Regions from separate parts of the Homo sapiens genome. Here regions 1, 3, 4 and 5 are each reported to be linked to region 2. Evidence: microRNA targets listed by miRTarBase, many of them from high-throughput screens and not tested one by one. Region 2 holds a microRNA gene; each other region holds the end of a gene's coding sequence.
What was found. Region 2 holds the annotated microRNA hsa-miR-1285-3p (UCUGGGCAACAAAGUGAGACCU, at 2,201-2,222, opposite strand). A microRNA usually pairs through its seed, bases 2 to 8, with sites in the 3' UTR of a target mRNA and lowers its output. Matches are read on the target gene's strand: a 7mer-m8 pairs with bases 2 to 8, a 7mer-A1 pairs with bases 2 to 7 and ends in A, and an 8mer does both.

Region 1: the mRNA of RNF135 is a reported target of hsa-miR-1285-3p. Seed matches in the 3' UTR shown: 7mer-m8 at 993-999.
Region 3: miRTarBase lists ATG12 as a target of hsa-miR-1285-3p. Seed matches in the 3' UTR shown: 7mer-A1 at 2,088-2,094 and 7mer-m8 at 2,631-2,637.
Region 4: miRTarBase lists RPL23 as a target of hsa-miR-1285-3p. The part of its 3' UTR that is shown has no 7-base or 8-base seed match.
Region 5: miRTarBase lists TATDN3 as a target of hsa-miR-1285-3p. Seed matches in the 3' UTR shown: 7mer-m8 at 1,362-1,368 and 7mer-m8 at 1,480-1,486.

Annotation. Positions count from the first base shown.
Region 1 is chr17:30,998,326-31,003,432 of GRCh38, forward strand. RNF135 (ring finger protein 135) reads left to right here. Exons shown (of 5, transcript NM_032322.4): 5 at 337-1,586. The coding sequence ends at 866. Among named protein-coding and RNA genes, the nearest start is that of RNF135, 30 kb to the left of the region's middle.
Region 2 is chr2:70,250,733-70,255,839 of GRCh38, forward strand. It overlaps MIR1285-2 (microRNA 1285-2), which reads right to left and starts at 2,273; the gene lies at 2,186-2,273. It also overlaps the pseudogene RPL39P15.
Region 3 is chr5:115,827,634-115,832,726 of GRCh38, reverse strand. It overlaps ATG12 (autophagy related 12), which reads left to right. Exons shown (of 4, transcript NM_004707.4): 3 at 63-125; 4 at 864-4,527. The coding sequence ends at 923. It overlaps LOC124901049 (a long non-coding RNA gene), which reads right to left. Exons shown (of 2, transcript XR_007058908.1): 2 at 1-476. Among named protein-coding and RNA genes, the nearest start is that of ATG12, 11 kb to the left of the region's middle.
Region 4 is chr17:38,845,485-38,850,591 of GRCh38, reverse strand. RPL23 (ribosomal protein L23) reads left to right here. Exons shown (of 5, transcript NM_000978.4): 4 at 117-230; 5 at 378-2,732. The coding sequence ends at 460. It overlaps LOC124903994 (a long non-coding RNA gene), which reads right to left. Exons shown (of 3, transcript XR_007065743.1): 3 at 2,302-2,327. Among named protein-coding and RNA genes, the nearest start is that of SNORA21B, 3.6 kb to the left of the region's middle.
Region 5 is chr1:212,814,201-212,819,307 of GRCh38, forward strand. It overlaps TATDN3 (TatD DNase domain containing 3), which reads left to right. Exons shown (of 10, transcript NM_001042552.3): 10 at 813-2,630. The coding sequence ends at 956. Among named protein-coding and RNA genes, the nearest start is that of TATDN3, 25 kb to the left of the region's middle.

The DNA of each region.
Region 1 (5,107 bases), not on the chromosome of region 2:
CTCAGGAGTTCGACACCAGCCTAGGAAGCATGGCAAAATCCTGCTTCTTTTCTAAATAAATTTTAAAAATAAATAAATATAATAAGTGTACATATTTATGGGATACATAGTGATGTTTCAATACATATGGTGCATAGTGATCCGATCAAGGTAGTTAGCATATCTATCATCTGAAACATTTATCATTTCTTCCTGTTGGGTGATGTAGCAATTTTAATGCTAGTGTGAGTGAAACATCACACCAAAAGATACAAAGTTGCTATTTGAAGACTTCTTAGCATGGACCATCAAAAGATGACCGGCCATGTTCTTATTGTTCTTTTTTTTTTTCCAAAGGGGCCATCCATCCAACCTTTAACTTGAAGAGCCTTTCCTGCAGCCTGGAGGTGTCCAAGGATTCCCGTACAGTGACTGTGTCTCACCGCCCACAACCCTATCGCTGGAGCTGTGAGAGGTTTTCTACCAGCCAGGTCTTATGTTCCCAGGCCCTGTCTTCTGGAAAGCATTACTGGGAAGTGGACACTAGGAATTGCAGCCACTGGGCAGTTGGGGTGGCTTCCTGGGAGATGAGCCGCGACCAGGTCCTGGGAAGGACTATGGACTCTTGTTGTGTGGAATGGAAGGGGACTAGCCAGCTCTCTGCATGGCACATGGTCAAGGAAACTGTCCTTGGCTCAGACAGACCTGGGGTGGTGGGCATCTGGCTGAACCTTGAGGAGGGAAAGCTTGCCTTCTATTCAGTGGACAATCAGGAGAAGCTTCTGTATGAGTGTACCATCTCTGCCTCCTCTCCTTTGTACCCTGCCTTCTGGCTGTATGGCTTACATCCTGGAAATTACCTGATAATAAAGCAAGTAAAGGTGTAAGGTTTCCTAAGGGATTACAACACAGTGGTTTCCTGGTCTCTCTCCCTGTCATCAATCAGGGTAGTAACTTGACTTAAGAATACCACTTTTTAGAAAAATTACGATAGAGATGGGATCTCACTAGGTTGCCCAGGCTGGTGTCGAATTCCTGGTCTCAAGCAGTCCTCCCACCTCAGCCTCCCAAGGTGCTGGGATTACAGGTGTGAGCCACCACACCTGGCCAAGAATACCACTTTTGAAGTTAATCCTTTTGTGTGATACAGGATGAACTTGGGATGTTTGAACCCTGGACATTCCAAATAAAGAATAGGCCCCTGCCTGGCTCCTGGGAGATAACCTCTAAGCCATTAGAATATCTTGCCTGATAAGAGTGTTTTTGTTTACCTGTGGGCCTTGGGCCATGCAGTATCAGCTTGACCTTGCAAGGTCAAGCTGAGGAGACTAAGTTAGCCATGTGGGCAGTGAAGCATGCCAATGTGATCAATCCCTAGTAAAAGCCCTGGACACCTAGGCATGGGTGAGCTACTCTGGTTGGTAATACTCTGTGCACACATCATTGTAGCCACACATCATTGCTGGGAGAATTAAGCATTATCCTGAAGACTCTGCCAGGAGAGGATAATTGGAAGTTCTCTTGGACCTTACCTTATGTGCCTTTCTTCATTGCTGATTTTAATCTGTATCCTTTCACTGTAATAAACTGTAACTATGAGTGCAACACTTTGCTGAGTTCTGTGAGTCCTTCTAGTGAATCACTGAACCTGAGGGCAGTCTCAGAGGATCTCTAAACATAATTTGCTACTTATCAGTTGCTATGTAAGAATATTGCCACAAATTTAATGGTTTAAAATAACACATAGATATTATTTCACAGTTTCTGTGAGTCAGGAGTCAGAGCATAGCTTAGCTGAGTCTCCTACATCAGAGTTTTACAAGCTGCAATCAACATGTCAGCTGGGGACACAGGGTCATCTGAGGCTCCAATGGGGAAGGATCTGCCTCCAAATTACATGGTCATTGGCAGCCTTCAGTTCTTGAGTTGCCGGACTGAGGGCCTCAGTTTCTTTCTGGTTGTTGGCTGGAGACCGCCCTCAGTTCCTTACCCCATAGGCCTTTGCAACACAGCTGCTTGTTTCCTCAAAGACAATAAGGGAGAGGGTCTCCTAGCCAGATGACGCAAAATCTTTTTTTTTTTTTTGAGACGGAGTCTCACTCTTGATGCCCAGGCTGGAGTGCAGTGGTGTGATCTGGGCTCACTGCATCCGCCGCCTTCCAGTTTCAAGCAATTCTCCTGCCTCAGCCTCCCGAGTAGCTGGGATTACAGATGTCTGCCACTACGCCCGGCTAATTTTTTTTTTGTATTTTTAGTAGAGATGGGGTTTCACCATGTTGGCCAAGCTGGTCTCGAACTCCTGACTTCGTGATTCTCCCGCCTCAGCCTCCCAAAGTGCTGGGATTACAGGCATGAGCCACTGCACCCGGCTGACACAAAATCTTACATAGCATAACCACATAAACACGTAATCACGTACATCCCATTGCCTTTGCCTTCTATTGATTAGAAGCAAGTCACGTTACCACCCACACTGAAGGGGAGGGGATTACAGAAGGACATGAATGCCAGGAAGTGGGGCTAATGGGGGCCACTCTACAGTATGTCTGACACAGGTGTTATTTCATACTTGATTTCCCCTATTTTTAACAACCATTTTATTATATAAGAAAACAGATACAGAAAACTACACAAAACAAGTGGTGCTTAATGAGTTATTATAAGGTAAATACCCTTGTAACTATCATTCAGGTCAAGAAATAGCACCTGCTGCCCACCCCAGAAGCGCCTTCCTGTGCCCCATTCTAATCACAAAACCCTCCCTGTGCCTGAAAGGAGTCTTGACATTCACGCCAAACACTTCCTTGCATTTCTTTAGAGTTTTATCACTCAAATATGCATCCATAGCCACAGTAGTTTCATCTTGCCCATTAAAAAAAATGGTATGTCCTTTAACAGCTTTGTTGGGAATATTATTTATTTATTTATTTATTTATTTTATTTTGGAGCCAGGTTCTCACATTGTCACCAAAGCTGAAGTGAAGTGGCATGAATCTTGGCTCACTGCAACCTCTGCCTCCCGGGTTCAAGTGATCCTCAGCCTCCTGAGTAGCTGGGATTACAGGTGTGAGCCACCACACCCAGCTAATTTTTGCATTTTTAGTAGAGATGGGGTTTTGCCATGTTGCCCAGGCTGGTCTCAAACTCCTGAGCTCAGGCAGTCTGCCTACCTCAGGCTCCCAAAGTGCTGGGATTACAGGCGTGAGCCACTGTGCCTGACTGACATATAATTTACATTCTATGAAATTCACTTAAGGTGTACAAATATATGTTTTTTACTATATTTACAGAGTTGTAAAACCATCACCATAATCTAATTTTAGGATATTGTCATCACCCCCAGAAAGAACCCTCATGCCCATTATTTAATGTCTGTTAGTCTCCTAATATACATGTCTCTCTCTCTCTCTTTTTTTTTTTTTTTGTCTTACAGTTCATCCATAGAAGGACTCTGGTCTTGACTAGCACCTATTCTGAAGATGGGGACGTTCAGCTCCTGAACTAGGTTGAAGAGAAAACCCTGTCATGCAAACCAGCCAGGCAGCGTTTGACAGTATATTTAAACTCTTCTTGCCTTTCTTTCCTCTCTAAAATGGACATCATTATTATTTGCCCTTCCTTACCTTCCTCACAGGTTTGCTGAAACCATTAAATAAAGTAGGAGGTGAGGAAATCGGAAGAATACAAGGATGATGATTATCACAGCAGCAATGATGGAATTACATCTTAATATCACCCACCTTGGCCTCTAACATCCTGAGACTCACACCTAATTTCTATACATGATTAATCGCTCCTTCAAAACAGGGGTAAGCAGAATTCTTCCACGTGGTCTACTAATATGCTTTCTGAGCCTCACCACTGCCCTGCGTGATGGGTATTATTACCTTCCTGTTGATGCATAAGGAAGCAGAGGCCGGGACAGGTGTGGTGGTTTGTCCGGGGTTGATCAGCCAGTCATGGCAGAGCTGGAACCAGGCCCAGTTTTCTCACTTTTGTTTGTTGTTGTTTTTTTTTTTTTTTTAAGACAGAGTCTCGCTCTGTTACTCAGGCTGGAGTGCAGTGGTGTGATCTTGGCTCACTGCAACTTCTGCCTCCAGAGTTCAAGTGATTCTCGTGCCTCAGCCTCCCAAGTAGCTGGGATTGTAGGTGTGCACCCCCATGCTCGGCTAATTTTTGTATTTTTAGTAGAGACAGGGTTTCACCATGTTGTCCAGGCTGGTCTTGAACTCCTGACCTCAAGTGATCCACCCACCTCGGCCTCCCAAAGTGCTGGGATTACAGGTGTGAGCCACCATGCCTGGCTGGTTTTTTCACTCTGAAGCCTCTCCCCTCGTTACTCTCCGATAAGGTCCTATGCTAAGGCCAGGACCTGGCCTTCCACTTTGATGGGACACAGCTAGCCCTAAAGTCATGAGGTACCCTTTCTTTTTGATTTTGGTGGTTGTCCTTAAGTGGCCTTGAGTTGTCTAAGCAGTGACAAGGCTTCCTTGTTTGTGCCAAGTGACCACTAAGAAGCTATGGGTGGCCGGGTGTGGTGGCTCACGCCTGTAATCTCAGCACTTATGGAGTCTGAGGTGGACAGATCACCTGAGGTCAGGAGTTCGAGATCAGCCTAGTTAACATGGTGAAACCTCGTCTCTACTAAAAATATAAAAATTAGCTGGGCGTAGTAGCACACACCTGTAATCCCAGCTATTTGGAGGCTGAGGCAGGAGAACCACTTGAGCCTGGGAGGCGGAGGTTGCAGTGAGCCATGATCTTGCCACTGTACTCCAGCCTGGGTGATACATCAAGACTCTGTCTCAAAAATAAATAAATAAGGCTAGGCGTGGTGGCTCATGTCTGTAATCCCGGCACTTTGGGAGGCCGAGGCGGGCGGATCACAAGGTAAGGAGTTCGAGACCATCCAGGCCAATATGGTGAAACCCTGTCTCTACTAAAAATAATAAAATTAGCTGGGCATGGTGGCGGGCACCTGTAGTCCCAGCTACTTGGGAGGCTGGGGCAGGAGAATCGCTTGAACCTGGGAAGTGGAGGTTGCAGTGAGCCGAGATCACGCAACTGCACTCCATCCTGGGTGACAGAGCGAGATTCTGTCTCAAAAATAAATAAATAAATAAATAAA
Region 2 (5,107 bases):
TAAAATACAAAAATTAGCCAGATGTGGCGGCACATGTCTGTAATCCCGGCTACTCGGGAGGCTGAGGTAGGAGGAGAATCACTTGAACCCGGGAGTCGGAGGTTGCAGTGAGCCCCTGGGCCACAGAGCAAGACTCCTCAAAAACAAAACAAAACACCAAAAAAACAAAAACGTGATGTCCTCTTTAAAGTAGTTTCTTCAGACTGTATACATTCTGGATTTTTCATTTTTGGAATTGTCTTTAGAGTCTCTGACACATTCTTCAGATTATTTTCAAAGATATCAAGTACTAGTCTTTTGATGGTGAATAAAACAAATGTTAATGGGGATGGTGTTTTAAAAACACCTTTTTGGGACATCCATATAAAGTGTTTTTCAGTTTAATGGTTTTTAGTTTATTCACAGAGGTGTGTGTGCAACAATCACCACAATCAATTTTATAACATTTTCTTCACCTCAAAAAGGAAACCCGTAGCAATTAGCAGACACTCCCTGTCCCTCATCCCATTCCATGTCCCAGCCACTAGTCTTTCTGCCCCTATAGATTTGCCTATTCTAGACATTTCATATAAATGGAAGCATGTAATATATGGTTTCTTGTAACTGACTTATTTCACTTAACATTATGCTTTTCAGGGTCATCTATGTTGTAACGTGTATCGGTACTTCATTCCTTTTTATTCCCAAATAAAACTCCATTATATGGATATTGCACAAGTACTTTTTTTAAAGTAGTTTTTAAGTTACAAAAGTACAACGTGCTTAGTGTTACAAATGAAATGAAATGGATACATAAGGAAAATATTAAAAATGTATCTTCTTCCTCCTTTTGAGGTAAGTAATATTAATAGATTCATCTGTAATATTCCACATTTTACTCTATACAGATGCACATGTATACACTTGGGATTTTTAGGGTTTTTTTTTTTGTTTTTTGTTTTTTTTTTACAGAGTGTCACCCAGAGTGACAGTGTCTTGGCTCACTGTGAACTCTGTCTCCTGGGCTCAAGCGTTTCTTGTGCCTCAGCCTCCAGAGTAGTTGGGATTACAGGTGTGAGCCACCACACCTGGCTAGTTTTTTTTTTTGAGACAGAGTTTCGCTCTTGTTGCCCAGGCTGGAGTGCAATGGCATGATCTCGGCTCACTGCCACCTCCACCTCCCGGGTTCAAGCGATTCTCCTGCCTCAGCCTCCCGAGTAGGTGGGATTACAGGCATGTGCCACCATGCCCGGCTAATTTTATATTTTTAGTAGAGATGGGGTTTCTCCGTGTTGGTCAGGCTGGTCTTGAATTCCTGACCTCAGATGATCTGCCTGCCTCGGCCTCCCAAAGTGCTGGGATTACAGGCGTGAGCCACCATGCCCGGCCTAATTTTTTTTTATTTTTAGTAGAGACAGGATTTCACCATGATGGCCAGGCTGGTCTCAAACTCCTGACTTCAAATGATCCACCCGCCTGATCTCAGCTCACTGCAACCTCTGCCTCCCAGGTTCAAGCGATTTTCCTGCCTCAGCCCGCCTAGTAGCTGAGATTACAGGCGTGGGCCAGCATGCCCCGCTAATTTTTGCATTTTTTAGTAGAGATGGGGTGTCACCATGTTGGACTGTCTGGTCTCAAACTCCTAACCTCAAGTGATCCGCCCACCTTGGCCTCCCAAAATGCTGGGATTACAGGTGTGAGCCACTGCGCCGGGCTTTTTTTTTTTTTTTTTTTTTTGAGACAGGGTCTCGCTCTGTTGCCCAGGCTGGAGTGCAGTGGCAATGATGTCAGCTCACTGCAGCCTCTGCCTCCAGGCTCAGGTGTTCCTGCTACCTTAGCCTCCTGAGTAGCTGGGACTACAGGCACGTGCCACCATGCCTGGCTAATTTTTTTTTTTTTTTGAGATAGAGTTTCACTCTTGTTGCCCAGGCTGGAGTGCAATGGCTCGATCTCAGCTCACTGCAACCTCCACCTCCCGGGTTCAAGCAATTCTCCTGCCTCAGCCTCCTGAGTTGCTGGGATTACAAGCGCCTGCCACCACACCCGGCCAATTTTTGTATTTTTAGTAGAGATGGGGTTTCACCATATTGGCCAGGCTGGTCTCGAATTCCTGACCTCAGGTCATCCGCCTGCCTCGGCCTCCCAAAGTGCTGGGATTACAGGCATGAGCCACCATGCCCGGCCCACGCCCAGCTAATTTTTGTATTCTTTGTAGAGACGGAGGTCTCACTTTGTTGCCCAGATTGGTCTCAAATTGCTGGGCTCAAGTGATGCACCAGCCTCGGCCTCCCAAAATGCTGGAATTACAGGTGTGAGCCACTGCGCCCAGTCCTGGCCTAATAGTTTTTTAATAGTTGCAAAATCGTCCATAAAATGAAAGTTCCCCAATGTATTGAATGGTAAATTGAATAAATTACCATAACTGGCATTGATGGATATTCAGGTTACTACTTTTCAAAAACCTATTGTATTACAAATAATGTTGCAGTTGTATCCTGGTACATGTACCTTTTTTTTTTTTTTTTTTTTTTTTGGAGGTTGGGGGGCAGAGTCTCACTCTGTGCCCAGACTGGAATGCAGTACCACAATCACTGCTCACCTCAGCCTCTACCTCCCAGGCTCAGGTGATCCTCCTGCCTCAGCCTCCTGAGTAGCTGGGACTACAGGTGCACACCACCATGCCAGGCTAATTTTTTTGTATTTTTTCGTAGAAACGGGGTTTCGCCATTTTGCTCAGGCTGGTCTCGAACCCTGGGCTCAAATCGTCCGCCTGCCCTAGCCTCCCAAAGTGCTGGGATTACAGGTGTGAGCCACTGAGCCCAGCCTCTTTCTCCAAGTTTAACTTTATTTTGTATCCAACCTATTTTCTTCTCATCTATATTGTTCTTCATGTTCATGTACTAGTTATTTTTGTTTGTTTGTTTGGGTGAAGTATTGTAATTACAGAAATGAGACTTTTTTTTTTTAAATGAAAGGCCTCACATATTTATTACTGAACCCAGCCAACCAATGCGTTCATAACAGATTCGGAGAGGAAAACACGTCGAACTCTCCAGATAGGGGTGACATTTTCAGCTTGATATGGTAACGTGATCGTGACCTTCAGACAGCATAAATATGTGTGCCATCTCATGTACAATTCCTTATAGACCCAGCTTGGTTCTTCTCCAATGTCTCCTTTTGGAGTTGTACCTGATTTTATTTCCAGTTTTCATCCGAATCCACTGGGGAATGGGACGATTTTGCTTTTGTTTCTTGGGCAGGAATCACTTAATCCTGAAAGTCTTGTGAGAAGACATGGTGAGGGTGGAGTCAAGAACACACCACGATGGCAGAGAAAGGAAAAGAGGCATGAGATCATTTTATACCCATCATGCAACCACAAGCTTTTCTCAACTGATAATACTAGGACATTAGTTATAGACCCATTTTTTTTTTTTTTGAGACGGAGTCTCACTCTGTCGCCCAGGTTGGAGTGCAGTGGCGTAATCTTGGCTCACTGCAGCCTCTGCCTCCTGGGTTCAAGCAATTGTCCTGTCTCAGCGTTCCTGAGTAGCTGGGATTACAGGTGTGCGCTACCACGCCTGGCTGATTTTTATATTTTTAGTAGTAGAGACAGGGTTTCACCATGTTGACCAGCCTGGTCTCAAATTCCTGACCTCAGGTGATCTGCCTGCTTCAGCCTCCCAAAGTGCTGGGATTACAGGTGTGAGCCACTGCGCCAAGCTCCAACATTCTTTTTTTGTAATTTTTTTTTTTTTTGAGATCAGCCTGTCAGGTTGGAGTGCAGTGGTGCAATCTCAGCTCACTGCAACCTTGGCCTCCCAAGTTCAAGTGATTCTCCTGCCTCAACCTCCCAAGTAGGTGGGATTACAGGCATGCATCACCACGCCCAGCTAATTTTTGTATTCTTAGTAGAGGCAGAGTTTTGCCACGTTGGCCAGGCTGGTCTTGAACTCCTGACCTCAGATATTCTGCCTGCCTTGGTCTCCCAGAGTGCTGGGATTACAGGCGTGAGCCACCGTGCCTGGCTTCCTTTTAATGCATGCATAATGTTCTATTGTATGGTATGTTGGGGAGAAAAAAAGAGTTTTCCTCTACCCTTCCGAGGTTTTGGTTGTGATAGACCCCTGTAACAAAAGACAGATTAACAAGAAGAAAACAAACAGGACCAGGCATGGTGGCTCATGCCTGTAATCCCAACACTTTGGGAGCCCAGGAGTTCCAGACCAGCCTGGGCAATATGGCAAAAAACCATCTCTACAAAAAATGTAAAAATTAGCTGGGCATGGTAGTGGATGCCTGTGGTCCCAGGTACTCTACTCTGGTGGCTGAGGTGGGTGGATCGCTTGAGCCCAGGAGCGAGAGGTTGCAGTGAGCCGTGATAGTGCCATTGCACTTCAGCCTGGGTGACAGAGCGAAGCCATCTCAAAATAAATAAAAGAAAGAAAGAAAAAAAGAAAAACAGAAATTTAAAAACATGTACGTCACGTATTCAAAAGAGAGACCAGGGAAATGAGCAAATCTCCAAGAGGTAGCTTTGAATTCAGGATTATACAGCATCTTCAAAAAAGAACAGTATATGTTTAGAGAAGTGTTAAGAGAACCGGGCACAGTGACTCACGCCTGTAATTCCAGCACTTTGGGAGGCCGAGGTGGGCGGATCACCTGAGGTCGGGAGTTCGAGACCAGCCTAACCAACACGGAGAAACCCCATCTCTACTAAAAATACAAAATTAGCTGGGTGTGGTGGCGCTTCCCTATAATCCCAGCTACTCAGGAGGCTGAGGCAGGAGAATTGCTTGAACCCGAGAGGCGGACGTTGCCGTGAGACTGCGCCATTGCACTCCAGCCTGGGCAACAAGAGCGAAACTTCGTCTCAAAAAAAAAAAAAAAAAGAAAGAAAGAAAAAAAAAGAGAAGTGTTAAGAGAAGGAAAATGATTTTGAGTCTCTAGGGGTGGCAAATTATGGGAAGGCAAATACGCGATAGAAAAAGGCTCATTAATGAAGTTTGTCATGTAGATTCCTGGCTGATAAAGGTTTGTCAAAAGACAAAATTACAACTAATTTAGTTTAAAGAGCATAATTGGCTTTTAGTTGCGATTGTAGAATTGTGCAACACCTCAT
Region 3 (5,093 bases), not on the chromosome of region 2:
AGAAAAATGCAGATTAATCAGGATACCATTAAACATCTCTGTTTTTCCTTCCTTTCTTGTAGTTTATTTATGTGAATCAGTCCTTTGCTCCTTCCCCAGACCAAGAAGTTGGAACTCTCTATGAGGTAAAAAAAAAAAAAAAAAAAAAAAAAAAAGAAAGAAATTACTGCTTTTTTTTCTTAATCGAGTATGCACATCTGTATAATATGTATATTGTGTAGTATTGTTAATTCACATTTTTATTTCAAGAGATGGCATGCCATTCTTAATTTTCTGGGGTAGAAAAGATGACTTTCTTGTTCTGTTATCTAACATCTTGATCATAGAAAGATATTAATAAATTATACAATGATTGAAGAACCAAGGAATAAATTACATTTCAAAGTCATCTTCATGATTCTCATAAAGTAAGGCTTTTTCTTTATCTACATTTGATTTCTTCTACATTGTTCTTATAATCTGTTATCCAAATCTGCCTACAAGAAATTGAGAAAACAGCATAAGAATGACTGTTTAACATCTTACAGAGTCATTGTAATAGTTATTAGAGTACACATACTAGCACCACTACTAGAAAACAGCTAAAATTACATATATTGTGGTTGGACATGTAGAGAAAGGACAAGATTAAAATACATAAGCTCATTCATGCCTAAGATGCTTAAAGGACAGATTTTATTAAACACTTAGGATTATTAATATGTGTCTGATAGAAACAGGCATCCTTTGAAAGAGATAGCCTGTAACATAGGTAACTTAATATACGTGTGTGGATATTTATGATACATGTGGCATTTATCTTCTTAGTTTCATCTAAGAATAATAAAAGATTGAGTTTGATTTATTGCCTTTTTTTTTTGTAGTGTTTTGGCAGTGATGGTAAACTGGTTTTACATTACTGCAAGTCTCAGGCGTGGGGATGAACCACAAAGAAAATCAACTTGCTACTACATGAAATGGATTTTCACGGAAGAGACAGCTCTGAAAAGTTTTGATGCTTGTGGCAAGAGACTTAACAGATGTGATCTATTTAGTATGTGTCTACTCTATGTTTATGCATAAGAAAACATCCATAGCATGAATGGACTCAGAAAAATGTGATTTGTATTAATGCACCAGTCATCATAAAAGATGGTCATGATAGTACACCCATTGCTCCTACTTGTTACTATTATTGCTGCAGATCTGCCTCCAAGGTTGAAAAGGAGACTAAGACTGTATAAACATCTTCATTGTCAGTTCTCAAAATGACTGAAATTGTTTTCATGGTAAAAGTTAATATACTAAAGGGTTCCTTTTTTTTTAATGTTTACATTTATCTCTATGTTTACCTTTTTAGTCACATTGACCTGCTGGCTGAATACCTCAAATAGTCCAGTAGAGGGCAGTCCACCAGGCAGAAAAGGTTAGGCGTTTTGGTTTCACATCTTTGCTGGGGAATAATAGGGGAAATGGCTGTTTTTGCTAATTTTTAGCTAATATCTAGCCAGGAGAGCAAGCACATAGGACAGACTGAAAGACTGTAATTTTACACAATACACATGGCTTAATTATTTTATTGGGATACAGAAAAATATAAATTCTGGACAAATAAGTCATATACCTGTTTTCAGTCCTAACATTTAAGGATTCTTGAGTCCCAATCACATAACTGTGGTGTTACTCTGTCATTTATATGGTGTCAAAAGCACTTGATGAGTAAACCCAGTAGCATCTTTTTGAGTGTTTCATAATGCATTTTCCAACTTGAAAACAATAATTGAAAAATAGCCTTATTGTATATTTTATGCCATGACTAAAAGTGCCATTTTTACTGATGCTATTAGACTGATAATTTCTTGAAGTGAAATTTAACCTTTTTTTCTCTTTAGTATTATGTTTATAATGCCATATTTTTAGAAAGCATTCCAGATCAGGCATGGTGGCTTACACCTGTAATCCCAGCACTTTGGAAGGCTGAGGTGTGGGGATTGCGTGAAGCCACAAGTTTGAGACCAGCCTGGTTAGCAAGGCAAGATCCCCAACTCTACAAAAAAATAAAAATTAAAAAAAAATTATTAGGCTGCAGAGGCAAGAGGATCCCCTGAGCCCAGAAGTTCAAGGGTATAGTGAGTCGTGATTGTACCACTGCATTCCTGCTGAGCAACAGAGTGAGACCCCATCTCAAAAAAGAAAAAAAAAGGCATTCTAGTAAATCGAATGTAATGTGAATGGAATTTCAAAACAGGATCTAAGATGGTATGTAGTAGAATTCAAAGTAATATCATTTTAAAGTTAAATGAGTATGGAAAAGGTCTGTTCTCTAGTTTTGTCCAGTTCAGTTTACTGAAGGAATATATTTAATTATATTCATATATTTAACAAATAAAAATATGTTGAATTTTCGTATTGTTTGCCACTGAGGGTTCAGATGATAGACCTCAAAAAATCGAAAATACTGGTTGAAATTTGTAGCATCCATTTAGTTATTCTTTTTGACCTAAATAACTTAATAGTTTATTAAATCTAAGGTTAGCTAAATATGTAGCTAACCTTATTTGTTTTCTTTCCTAACAACTCTGAAGAATACATAGGACTTTGCACTTTTTTTTTTTTTTTTTTTTTTTAAAGAGACAGCGTTTCGGTCTTGTTGCCCAGGCTGGACTGTAATGGCACAATCTTGGCTCATTGCAACCTCTACCTCCCGGGTTCAAGTGATTCTCCTGCCTCAGCCTCCTGAGTAGCTGGGATTACAGGCACCTGCCACCACACCCGCCTAATTTTTTGTTATTTTTAGTGGAGACAGGGTTTTACCATTTTGGCCAGGCTGGTCTCAAACTCCTGACTGACCTCAGGTGATCCACCCGCCTTGGCCTCCCAAAGTGCTGGGATTATAGGTGTGAGCCACCGTGCCGGGCCTGGACTTTGTACTTTTTCAAATCATATTTAATTATTTCTTGATCTTTACTCAAAGAATTATTCTGCGCTAAATTTGCAACATTAAACAATAATTAAGCCTGGATCCGATAAGTTATTGGGTGACTAGAACCTACAACACAATTTATTTTTAATTTAAACTCTCAAGTCTGATTAAACTTGGGGGAAAAACTGAACATTCAGGTGATATTTTAAATTTTCTTTGTGACTAAATAGATGTCATTAATATCATGCTTCATCTTACTGTGCATAGATGACCCATGGCACACAAAGTATATGTATAATATTGCAATATTGTACTTCCATCTTTAAAAGTATGCCAAAGACTTCATAATGAATTCACCATATTTAAGGAATAAGGCAAATTAATGTTTATCCGAAATCAAAATGAGATTGGATAATTCCTGGAATCTGATTTCTGTAAGTTTCAGTCCTAAAGGGACCTTAAATATCTACTAGAACGAAGTACAGTGTATTTCTCAGATTACATGACATTAGTCAACCAATTTAGTTGTAACACAAAGTGAGAAAGCCTTAGGTGTTGAAGGAGTGTGAAAATAAAAATCTCTTTTCATGCAGTTTCTGCTTCATTTTCCAAGGATTATAATATGCTGAGTAAACTTTTGGCACTAAGGAAGCCAGCTACAGGCCACGTAATGAAAACTATTCAGAAAACAGTTCAGCAAATACTACTATTTGAATACAGTTCAAATCGTATTTATATAAATACTCTGCCTACATTATTTAACCCAAACTGGATTATTCACCATTCTTTGAAGATGCCTTGTGTTTTCTGTTATCTACTTCTGCTCGTGCAGTTTACTTACACCTTCACCCTTTCAAATCCTAACTCTTCTTCAAGGCCTGATTCAGATTTTAACTTTTTAAAGGCTATCTGAATCATTCAAGGAGAAGATACCCTTTCTCTCATAAAAACACTTAGAGCAAACTACCACTATTAAATCACTTATTGCATACTGCCTCAGAGCCATGTGTCCAGTTATTCTGGTTTTTATCTGGTACCCACACACACATAATACTTAGTACATTTCCTTATATGTAAATAATTAGTAATGTAACACATCGAGTGAATGAAATTGTGATTAGCAAAGTATGACAGCTAAAAACAAAGGAAATTTTGTATAGTTTAAGTTTTTGTACAGCAGAAGGTAATGGAAAATATTTGCAACATATGACAGTGTTTTTAATGTCTTAAGTATATGAAGAATTTGTTTCAATTGGTAAGAAAAGACCAACTGAAAAATAGGCAAAACATACCAAATTTCGATTCACAAAAAGATACAAATGGCCAACAAAACATGAAACACCTTGAACCCCATTGGTTACAAAAAATACAAATAAAAACAATGCTGACTGACAATAAAAATAATGTACATCTTGCTATTAGCAGAGTTGTGGGGAAATCCTGTCATATTTTGGTGAATAGAATATGAGTTGGTATATCACTTTTAGGGGGCCATTTGGCAATATCAAAAACCTTGAAACGTAAGTATAAACTTCAGTTTGTTCGTATAACCTGTCATTCACATATTGAGTGCCTACTATGTCCTAAATATTGGAATAACACTAATAAAGCTCATAAGAGACTAATAAAGTCCCTGTTCTTGGAGTCACTTTCATGTTGACTCAAGGGGGTAGGACAGATTTTCAGATTTGAATTTAAATCTCGGAAGTTTTTAAAATAGAATTTTTAGAAATAATGGAAAGTAATTTGATACCTGATACTAGCTACTATACCCATGTTTTCGTATTTAATATTAATGAAAGATAAAACGTGAGTAAAATCTTTAGAGGAATCCTTATAAATCAATTCCCATAGTTCCTTCTGTCATAGCTGATACACATGAATCTAGGTTGATTACTTCTAGTGATAGACAAAAAGGATGTCCTGTCCATTTTGAGATGGCTCTATTTGTTTCATAACTGCCTTTCTTACAACATGGCAAAATCTGCCTCCTTGCTTCCTCCAAGTATTTGTTCCCAGTTCTTTTATCTACATCTACAAAACATACCTTTCCCCCTTTCCTGCCCCACTTTTCCCAAGTCTTGTCTTAAGAATGATAAATCCATCCCTATAGTTGCTTAGAATCTTGACTCTCTTCCAACCCAGTTTCAATCCATCAGCTTTACTACCCAAAGCAATCTACAGATTCAAT
Region 4 (5,107 bases), not on the chromosome of region 2:
TTTACACTGTCACTGTCTCAAACGCTGAGTGTACATTCTGTCTAGTTGGAAACTGCTTTTGTGGTGGCACTGCGACTTGACAGGTTAATGACTGCTGTCCTTTTTTCTTCTCTCAGTACATCCAGCAGTGGTCATTCGACAACGAAAGTCATACCGTAGAAAAGATGGCGTGTTTCTTTATTTTGAAGATAATGCAGGAGTCATAGTGAACAATAAAGGCGAGATGAAAGGTAGGAAATCAGTCCAGCTTGTTCCTTAGGTCTCTGAGGTTGGGTGGATTGTCTAGAAGTACAGGCCAAGGATCTTCTGTGTTTGACGATGTCTTAATCTGTCCCCCACATGTTTTTATTTTATTTTATTTTATTTTTTTAATGCAGGTTCTGCCATTACAGGACCAGTAGCAAAGGAGTGTGCAGACTTGTGGCCCCGGATTGCATCCAATGCTGGCAGCATTGCATGATTCTCCAGTATATTTGTAAAAAATAAAAAAAAAAACTAAACCCATTAAAAAGTATTTGTTTGCAGTGCTTGTCTCCCTGTTCACTTCCAGGGTTCAAGCGATTCTCCTGCCTCAGCCTCCTAAGTAGCTGGGATTACAGGCACCTGCCGTCATGCCTGGCTAGTTTTTGTATTTTTGGTGGAGACAGGGTTTCACCATGTTTGCCAAACGACTCAAACTCCTGATCTCAAGTGATCTGCCCACCCAGGCCTCTACAGTGTTTTTGACATACCCTGACCATCACTTTTCTGAAATGGAAACTCTGGGCATTTTTTTTTTAAAGCAATCCTTGCTTTTTTGTGAGTTTGCAGACTTTCAGCATCTTCCAATTGCTGTATTTACAATTTTGGCCTCAAAAAGTATTATTTGGGTTTTGAGTCCCAAAAATAATAGTAGATACTGCTCAATGACTGGCTATACATGGTAGCTTCTCCTGGAGTGAGGAAGGCATTCAAATGGCTGGGCGCGGTAGCTGGCACCTGTAATCCCAACACTTTCGGAGGCCAAGGCAGGCAGATCATGAGGTCAGGAGTTCAAGACCAGGCTGACCAACGTGGTGAAACCTCCTCTTTTCTAAAAATACAAAAATTAGCTGGGCGTGGTGGCGCACCGCCTGTAATCTCAGCTACTGAGAGAATCGCTTGAACCTGGGAGGTGGAGTTTGCAGCGAGTCGAGATTGCACCATTGTACTCCATCCAGCCTGGGCAACGGAGCAAGATTCCGTTCCCGCCCCCGCCCCAAAAAAAGGCATTGAAGTTAAGATAGACTATATAGTTAGATCCTGGACACACACATGGATTTTGAGGAATGATGTGAGTTTGTTTATGTATGTACATTTTAGCAGTTAACAGATTTGGAGTAAATTGAATATTTATAAAACAACAGTAATTGCCATGTAGGTTTACTGTCATAGTGGAAGATGATTAAGTTGATGGTACCTACAGGTATTTTGCTATGAAAATGTTTTGACAAACAGGATGATCGTGTAATTTATGTTCCAAGCTCTAGTTTGAGAATGGAAGAATGTGGTAAATTTTTGCCAACTGAACAGGCATAAAGCGCTGATAATAAGGGACTTGGCCTTAAGGTAGGAGGTTGTTAGCATTTCTTTCTAAACGTGTAAGAGTTTATTTAGGTGACACCCAGCGTTTTGGAAAAATGGGTGTTTGTTTAGAACAATAATTTGGAGGGAAGTGGACTAAACAGGGTTTTTAGATTAAGGTTTGTGTTTATGTATCTGTATCTGCAAATACTCAGCCATAAATGTTTCTACCTGTAAGTTGGGTATAATACAAGCTCCACTTGGTATCAAAAAGGACTACCCTTAGTGTCTTCCATGACTAGTTATGGAATGTACCAGACCTAGAGAGGAGTTGTTCTAACCTGGAGCTTTTGAAAATGTTTCCGGTCCATACCCTAGACCAATTAAGTCAGACTGCAGAATAGGACTCAGACATCAGAATTGTGAAGCTCCCAGGAGATGTCAAGGTATACCCAAGACTGAGAACCAGTACCCTGTCTAGACTGAACCAGGCTTGGTTTTAGAAGTATTAAATCTCGCCTGGGTACGGTGGCTCACACCTATAATCCCAGCACTTTGGGAGGCTGAGGTGGGTGGATCATCTGAGGTCAGGAGAGTGAGACCAGCCTGTCCAACATGTTGAAACCCCATCTCTACTATACAAAATTAGCCAGGCATGGTGGTGCATGCTGTAATCCCAGCTACTTGGGAGGCTGAGGCAGGAGAATTGCTTGAACCCCGGAGATGGAGGTTGCAGTGAGCTGAGGTCGCACGATTGTGCTCCAGCCTGGGCAACCAGTGAAACTCTGGGGGGAAAGAAAAAAAATGTATTAAATCTCTAGTTTTAGAGAGTTACACCATAACATCCCTGAGTATGGTCAATTTCAAGTCAGCTTTAGTGTGACAAGCCCCTAGGCCCACCATTTATGTCTTTATATATTATGGCAATATATGATCCTTATATATTAACCACTAATCGCTGCTGTTTTTGAATGTTATCTTTTCTGAGGCAGTCTTGCTCTGTCACACAGGCTGGAGTGCAGTAACACCACTGAAGCTCACTGTAACTTTGAACTGCTGGACTTGGAATCCTCCTGCTGTGGCCTTCAAAGGGCTGCAATTACAAGTGTGAGCCACTGCATCCCACCTCACATTTTATTCTTTGGAGATTTTTTTTGACTTGGATTAAAAAACTTTATATTTACACTTCACTAAATGTTTTCCTTTGTCAGCTGGGCATGGTGGCTCACACCTGTAATCCCAGCACTTTGGGAGGCCGAGATGGGCTGATCACCTGAGGTGAGGAGTTCAAGACCAGCCTGGCCAACATGGTGAAATCTCGTCTCTACTAAAAATACAAAATTAGCTGGGCGTGGTGACGCGTGCCTGTAGTCCCAATTACTCCGCAGGCTGAGGCAGGAGAATTGCTTGAACCCAAGAGGCAGGGGTTGCAGTGGCGGAAGTTGCAGTGAGCCAGGGAGACTCCATCTCACTCCTGGGCTCCAAGAGACTCCTGGGCTCTTGTTGCCCAGGCTTGAGTGCAGTGGTGCAATCTCAGCTCACTGCAACCTCTGCCTCCTGGGTTCTAGCGATTCTCCTGCCTCAGCCTCCCGAGTACCTGTGACTACAGGTGCCCGCCACCACGCTAGGCTGATTTTTGTATCTTTTTTTTTTTTTTTTTTTTTTTTTTTTTTAGCATTTTTTTATTTTGAGACCGAGTTTCGCTCTTGTGCCCAGGCTGGAGTGCAATGGTGTGATCTCGGCTCACTGCAACCTCCGCCTCCCGGGTTCAAGTGATTCTTCTGCCTCAGCCTCCTGAGTAGCTGGGATTACAGGCATGCACCACCACGCCTGGCTAATTGTGTATTTTTAGTAGAGACCGAGTTTCTCCATGTTGGTCAGGCTGGTCTCCACCTCCCGACCTCAGGTGATCCGCCCCCCTCGGCCTCCCGAAGTACTGAGATTACACGTGTGAGCCACTGCGCCCGGCCAGATATATATATATATATATTGTTTCCTTTGTCACTGTTTATATTCTGCAAGTTCTTTCTAGGTAAAAGTTTTAATAGAATGGATTCAAGATATCAGATCTGATTTATAGTAGCTTGCAACTTGAACAGTAATACATGTACTTTCATAATAAAAATAGTAGTAAATATAAAAAAATAGTAAATTCACTACAAGACCTAGTGGAGCATGCCTATTATCCCGGCTACTCTGGAGGCTGAGATGAGCAATTCTGAAGTCTAGCTACAGGCACGCAAAAATTGGCCGGGTGTGGTGGTGTGTACCTTTAGTCTCAGCTACTCTGGAGGCTGAAGTGGGAGGATCACTTGAGGCCAGGAGGTCAAGGCTACAGTGAGCAATGATCACACTACTGCACTCCAGCCTGGGCAAGACTGTCTCTATGAAAAAAACAAAACAGGCCAGTTACAGTGGCTCACGCCTGTAATCCCAGCACTTTGGGAGGCCGAGGCAGGCAGATCATGAGGTCAGGAGATCAAGACCATCCTGGCTAACGGTGAAACCCCGTCTCTACTAAAAATACAAAAAAAATTAGCCAGGCATGGTGACGGGCACCTGTAGTCCCAGCTATTCAGGAGACTGAGGCAGGAGAATGGCGTGAAACCGGGAGGCGGAGCTTTCAGTGAACCAAGATCGTGCCACTGCACTCCATCCTGGGCGACAGAGTGAGACTCCGTCTCAAAAAAAATTAAAAAAACCTCCATCTCGGCTGGGTGCGGAGGCTCACGGCTGTAATCCCAACACTTTGAGAGGCCAAGGCAGGTGGATTACCTGAGGTCAGGAGTTCCAGATCAACCTGGCCAATGTGGCGAAACACGCGTCTCTACTAAAAATACAAAAATTAGCTGGGTGTGGTGATGGGCGCCTGTAATCCCAGCTACTCAGGAGGCTGAGGCAGGAGAATCACTTGAACCCAGGAGGTGGAGGTTGCAGTGAGCCAAAATCGCACCATTGCACTCCAGCCTGGGCGACAATAGCCAGACTCTGTCTCAAAAAACAAAACAACGGCCGTGGTGGCTCACGCCTGTAATCCCAGCACTTTGGGAGGTCGAGGCGGGTAGATCACCTGAGGTCAGGAGTTCAAGACCAGCCTGATCAACATGGTGAAACCCTGTCTGTACTAACAGTACAAAATCAGCTGGCTGTGGTGGTACATGCCTGTAATCCCAGCTACTTGGGAGGCTGAGGCAAGAGAATCGCTTGAACCCAGGAGGCAGAGGTTGCAGTGAGCCAAGATCGTGCCATTGCACTCCAGCCTGGGCAAGAAGAGTGAAACTCCATCTCAAAGAAAAAACAAAAACAAAAAACAACAACAAAAAAAAAACAAGGCCGGGCATGGTGGCTCACGCCTGTAATCCCAGCACTTTGGGAGGCTGAGATGGGCGGATCACGAGGTCAGGAGTTTAAGACCAGCCCGGCCAGAATGGTGAAACCCCGTCTCTACTAAAAATATAAAAATTAGGCCAGGCGCGGTGGCTCATGCCTGTAATCCCAGCACTTTGGGACGCCAAGGCGGGCGGATCACGAGGTCAAGAGATCGAGACCATCCTAGCTAACACAA
Region 5 (5,107 bases), not on the chromosome of region 2:
TATTTAACTTGCTATTGGTCATCTAGATTGTATTATAAACAACATGATTAACATAAATCTCTATGCCCATTTTTAATTTTTTTGGGCTACATTACCAAAGTGCATTTTAAAAATTTTAACAATAATGTTATTCTTCTGAACATTATCATCCTGAGTAGATACTTATTGATAGTAACAATAATAATTTATTTCATAAAATCTAAATGCTACTGATTGTAGAGGCACCATTGTTTACCATTGTTTTATGACCATTAAGAAAGAAAAAACACTGCCAGTTATACTATGAAATACCACTGAATCTAAATGAAATATACTGTATCAATTTCAGAGATGTTAAAATAGGAGAGGAAATGCATCTTAGAATCAGTGAAATGCCAGTACATAATCTATTTCATCTTTCCAATACATGTTGGCAATTCTTGAATCAAACTGTCATGTAGCCTGTGAGGTAGGCGGCCAAGCAGCAGAGCAGTGACCTTTTACAAGCATTCACCTAAGCAACAAACCAAAGGACAATTAATCCATTAGTCAGGCAGGTTACCAGGTGTTCACTGTTTGCAGACTGCTTCATGTGCTAGGAGCTAGGGACTTCAATTGTAAATACCCCAGGGTTCTTTTCAGGAGCAGCACAGATTTACAATCAACATTGCAGCCACACCTCCCTCCCAGCCCTCATCCCCACCTAAAAAGAAAAAAATTAAAAAGGAGCCCATCAGTTGTTTTTACCAACTCATTTTCTTCTATCTATAGTCTCCAAGGATCTGCTTCCCTTCAGTGTCATGTTTGACATGGTGTCTGCTGTCTTGTTTCAGGTACGGAATGAGCCCTGGAACATTTCTATTTCAGCAGAATATATTGCCCAGGTGAAAGGGATCTCAGTGGAAGAAGTTATAGAAGTGACGACACAGAATGCATTAAAACTGTTTCCTAAGCTCCGACACTTGCTCCAGAAATAGCTTCAAAACCATCCATTACAAAATCGAATCAACTGCAGGGGGCAGCATTTGAAAAATAGAAATGTTCTGATGAAGAATCTGAACTGAAGAAGCTGTTTTATAGGGTTATAGAAGATTGTAATTGTAGAGAAATATTTCTCTTAGAAATAAAACTGGGCTTGGATCCTGAAACCCTGGGTTCTGATTCTAGCCTTGTGCTGCTTTTCAATTAGCCGAGTTCTGGCAGGATATTGGGAAAATACTGCTACTTCTTACATTGCCCTTTTATATAGAACCACCACCTGAACTGAAACCATTGCTACTGGGAAGGGTGGCTCCCACAGGAAGAGTATAAGCACTACTGTGATGAGGATGGAGTAAGCTAAAGTATACTTTTTTTTTTTTTTGATGGAGTTTCGCTGTTGTTGCCCAGGCTGGAGTGCAATGGCACGATCTTGGCTCACTGCAACCTCCACTTCCCAGGTTCTAGCGAGTCTCCTCCCTCAGCCTCCCAAGTAGCTGGGATTACAGGCATGTGCCACCATGCCCAGCTAATTTTGTATTTTTAGTAGAGACAGGGTTTCTCCATGTTGGTCAGGCTGGTCTCGAACTCCCGACCTCAGGTGATCCGCCCGCCTCGGCCTCCCAAAGTGCTGGGATTACAGGCATGAGCCACTGCGCCAGCCTAAAGTGTGTTCTTACCACCTATTTTTCTTCCCATAGGAGTTAGCCAGTGAAGGGAGAATGTCTGGTTTTCTATGCTGTCAGAAATCTCTTTTCTAGGTTTGTAAAATTGAACTTTTAGTACTTCGAATTATTTCTCTTTAAGATAAAAATGCATACGATTTTTACACTGATCTTAGATTTTTGACTTATGAGGCCAGTGGTTTAAACAATCATTATTGAATACCAAGCCCAAAAGTTTAGTTAATACACCAATTGTAAGTTCTGGTCTGAATTTTGTCAACATATTTAGAATGTAAATGGCATTATTAAAAATGTATCTGATTTCTCTGTGAACAGTAATATTTCATATTTTTAAGTTTAAAAATGTTAGTGTAAGCCAGGCACAGTGGCATTCACCTGTAGTGCCAACCACTCAGGAGGCTGAGATGGGAGACCTTTTAAGCCTGAGTTTGAGTCAGGCCTGGGCAACATAGATGTGAGCACCTATCTCTAAAAATGTAAATAAATAAAAATCTCAAAAAAATTAAAAATCTCAAGTGTAAAAACAGTTCTGTAGATAGATGGTAGTGATGGTAGCACATCAATGTGAAGGTATTTAATGCCACTGAACTGTACACTTATAACGAATTAGGATAAATTTTATGTTATGTGTATTTACTACAATTTTTTAAAAATCGTATATGTAGTTTAACAGGTGTGGTCAATATCAAAACTTAGGTATTTAATCTTGTTAAATTATATAAGCAGAAAATGCTGGAAAAAGTACCTGTCATAGAAAAAAATAAACTTCCTAAATCAAAGTGATTTTATGAAATGATCTTCAATAAATATTTTGAAATGAATTCATTTATGGAAGAATCAAAACTAGGTCAGATTGTCCAAACCAGACTAAGAAACTGAATAGGGTATTTTATGAGGTATTTAATGACTCATCAGCACCATTTTAAATGAAATTCCTACATTTAACAGGAGATTATATTAAAACTGGACTTTTAAGCTCTCTTCCAACTCTGTATTTCTTTTCCCTATTTCCTACCTTCTGTACACATACCCTTTGTCAGACTCTTACCATTAAATCGTTTAAGGTTCAAGTTAAATTACTTCATCTTGCCTCATCACCCAGCCAGACATGATCTTTGCCCTCTAAATTGTTTAGCCATTTTCTTCATGTATTCATCCATTTGTTTGTTTCAGTTATTAAGCCCCTCCTCCTATAGGCTGCCCACTAGTCTAGGTTCCTAGGTTACAAAGATGAATAAGATATGATCTTTGCCCTCAGTTCACAATTTAATCAAGGAGATAGCCAAGTGGACAAATAATTTCATAGCAATGTGAGAAGTGCTATTGTTAGAGGAACCCCTGCTTACCAGGCCTCTGGTTTAATAAAACATGACTAGAGGCTGGGCACAATAGCTGACGCCTGTAATCCCAGCACTTTGGGAGGCTGAGACAGGCGGATTACTTGAGGTCAGGAGTTGAAGACCAGCCTGGACAACATGGCAAATCCACATCTCTACTAAAATACAAAAAAATCATTCAGGCGTGGTGGAACACACCTGTGATCCTAGCTGCTCAGGAGGCTGAGGCACAAGAATCACTTGAACTCAGGAGGCTGAAGTGGCAGTGAGCCGAGATCGCACCACTACACTCCAGCCTGGGCGACAGAGCAAGACTCTCTCCCCACCCCCCTACAAAAAAGAAAACATGACTAGAGTGACCCCATCTTAAAGTGAGTAGCTAGGCTCTCACAAGGCAGTTATAATATTAATACTTAAGGTCTGAAAATAGCCACAAGTATTATAATTACAAAATATTCACACCTGTAATCCTAGCCCTTTGTGAGGCTGAGGCATGTGGATCGCTTGAGGCCAGGAGCTTGAGACCAGCCTGGCTCACATGGCAAAACCCTGTCTCTACTAAAATATTAATAGTTTAAAAAGCTGGGTGTGGTGGCGCATGCCTGTAATCCCAGCTACTCAGGAGGCTGAGGCATGAAAATCGCTTGAACCTGGGAGGTGGTAGTTGCAGTGAGCCAAGATGGTGCCACTGCATTCCAGCCTGAGCAACAGTGAGACTCTGTCTCAAAAAAAAAAAAAAAAAAAAAAATTATGGTCATGCAGAACATCTCCCACTAAGCCTGCAGAATGTCCAGATGTCCTGAGTGCAGCCCACTTCACTCAAAGATAACATTAATGAGTAGGCTTAGTTTGAAGGATTAATGGTCATTATAGCACCAATAGCCTTGACCTTTAGTGAGCATATATGCACATTCCAAGTTTAATCATAGCTCCTTACAGTTTCTTCTAAGTAGAGACACTACCCAAGGACAGTGTGTTCCTCCTGCTTTCTGAGGACTTACTACTCTCTAACAGAGTAGTTCTAATAAACTTTCTTCCTTCACTGTGCTCTGTGACTCCTCTCCAGTTCTTCCCTGTGCTAGACCCAAGGACTGGCTCTTGGAGTCTCTTTTCCAGCAACACTATAGCAATGTAGAACAAAGTACTATAAACCAGTTCGTTGACACTTTCACATATTCCTTTTGACTATAGCTACCTGTGTATGTGTTTTCCATCTTTAGAAATTGCAAGCCTTTTGAGAACAAACCAATTTTAGTTTGTTTTTGCATCTTCTACATAGTCTGAAACAAGGCCTGCAATATGATATGCTCTCAATTTTTTTTTTTTTTTTTTTGAGACAGAGTCTCACGCTGTCACCCAGGCTGGAGGGCAGTGGTGCAATCTCGGCTCACTGCAACCTCCGCTTCCCGAGTTCAAGCGATTCTCCTGCCTCAGCCTCCCAAGTGGCTGCTATTACAGGTGCCCGCCACCACAACCAGCTAATTTTTTTGTATTTTTAGTAGAGACGGGGTTTCACCATGTTGTCCAGGCTGGTCTCGAACTCCTGACCTCGTGATCCGCCCTCCTCGGCCTCCCAAAGTGCTGGGATTACAGGTGTGAGCCACCATGCTCAGCCTCAAATATTTTTAAATTAGTGAATGGAGGCAGTAAGTCTTAAACTGACTGCAATAGAGAAAAATATTTATCTTTCAATCTGCAATGGCTATTGGATATCACATACCTTTCCACATTTTTTTTTTTAAATGAGTCCCACTCTGTAGCCCAGGCTGGAGTGCAGTGGCACGATCTCGGCTCACTGCAACCTCTACCTCCTGGGTTCAAGTGATTCTCTTGCCCCAGCCTCCTGAGTAGCTGGGATGACAGGCACCCGCCACCACGCCCGGCTTATTTTTTGTATTTTTAGTGGAGATAGGGTTTCGCCATGTTGACCAGGCAGGTCTTGAACTCCTGATCTCAGGTGATCCACCTGCCTCAGCCTCCCAAAGTGCTGGGATTACAAGTGTGAGCCACCGAGCCCAGCCTCCTTTCCACAGTTTTTTGAGAAACATATTTTTCTCCTTTAACTTATAAATCTACTAAATACCATCCAGAGATTTCCTAATGTTGAACCATTCTGAAAAATAGGAA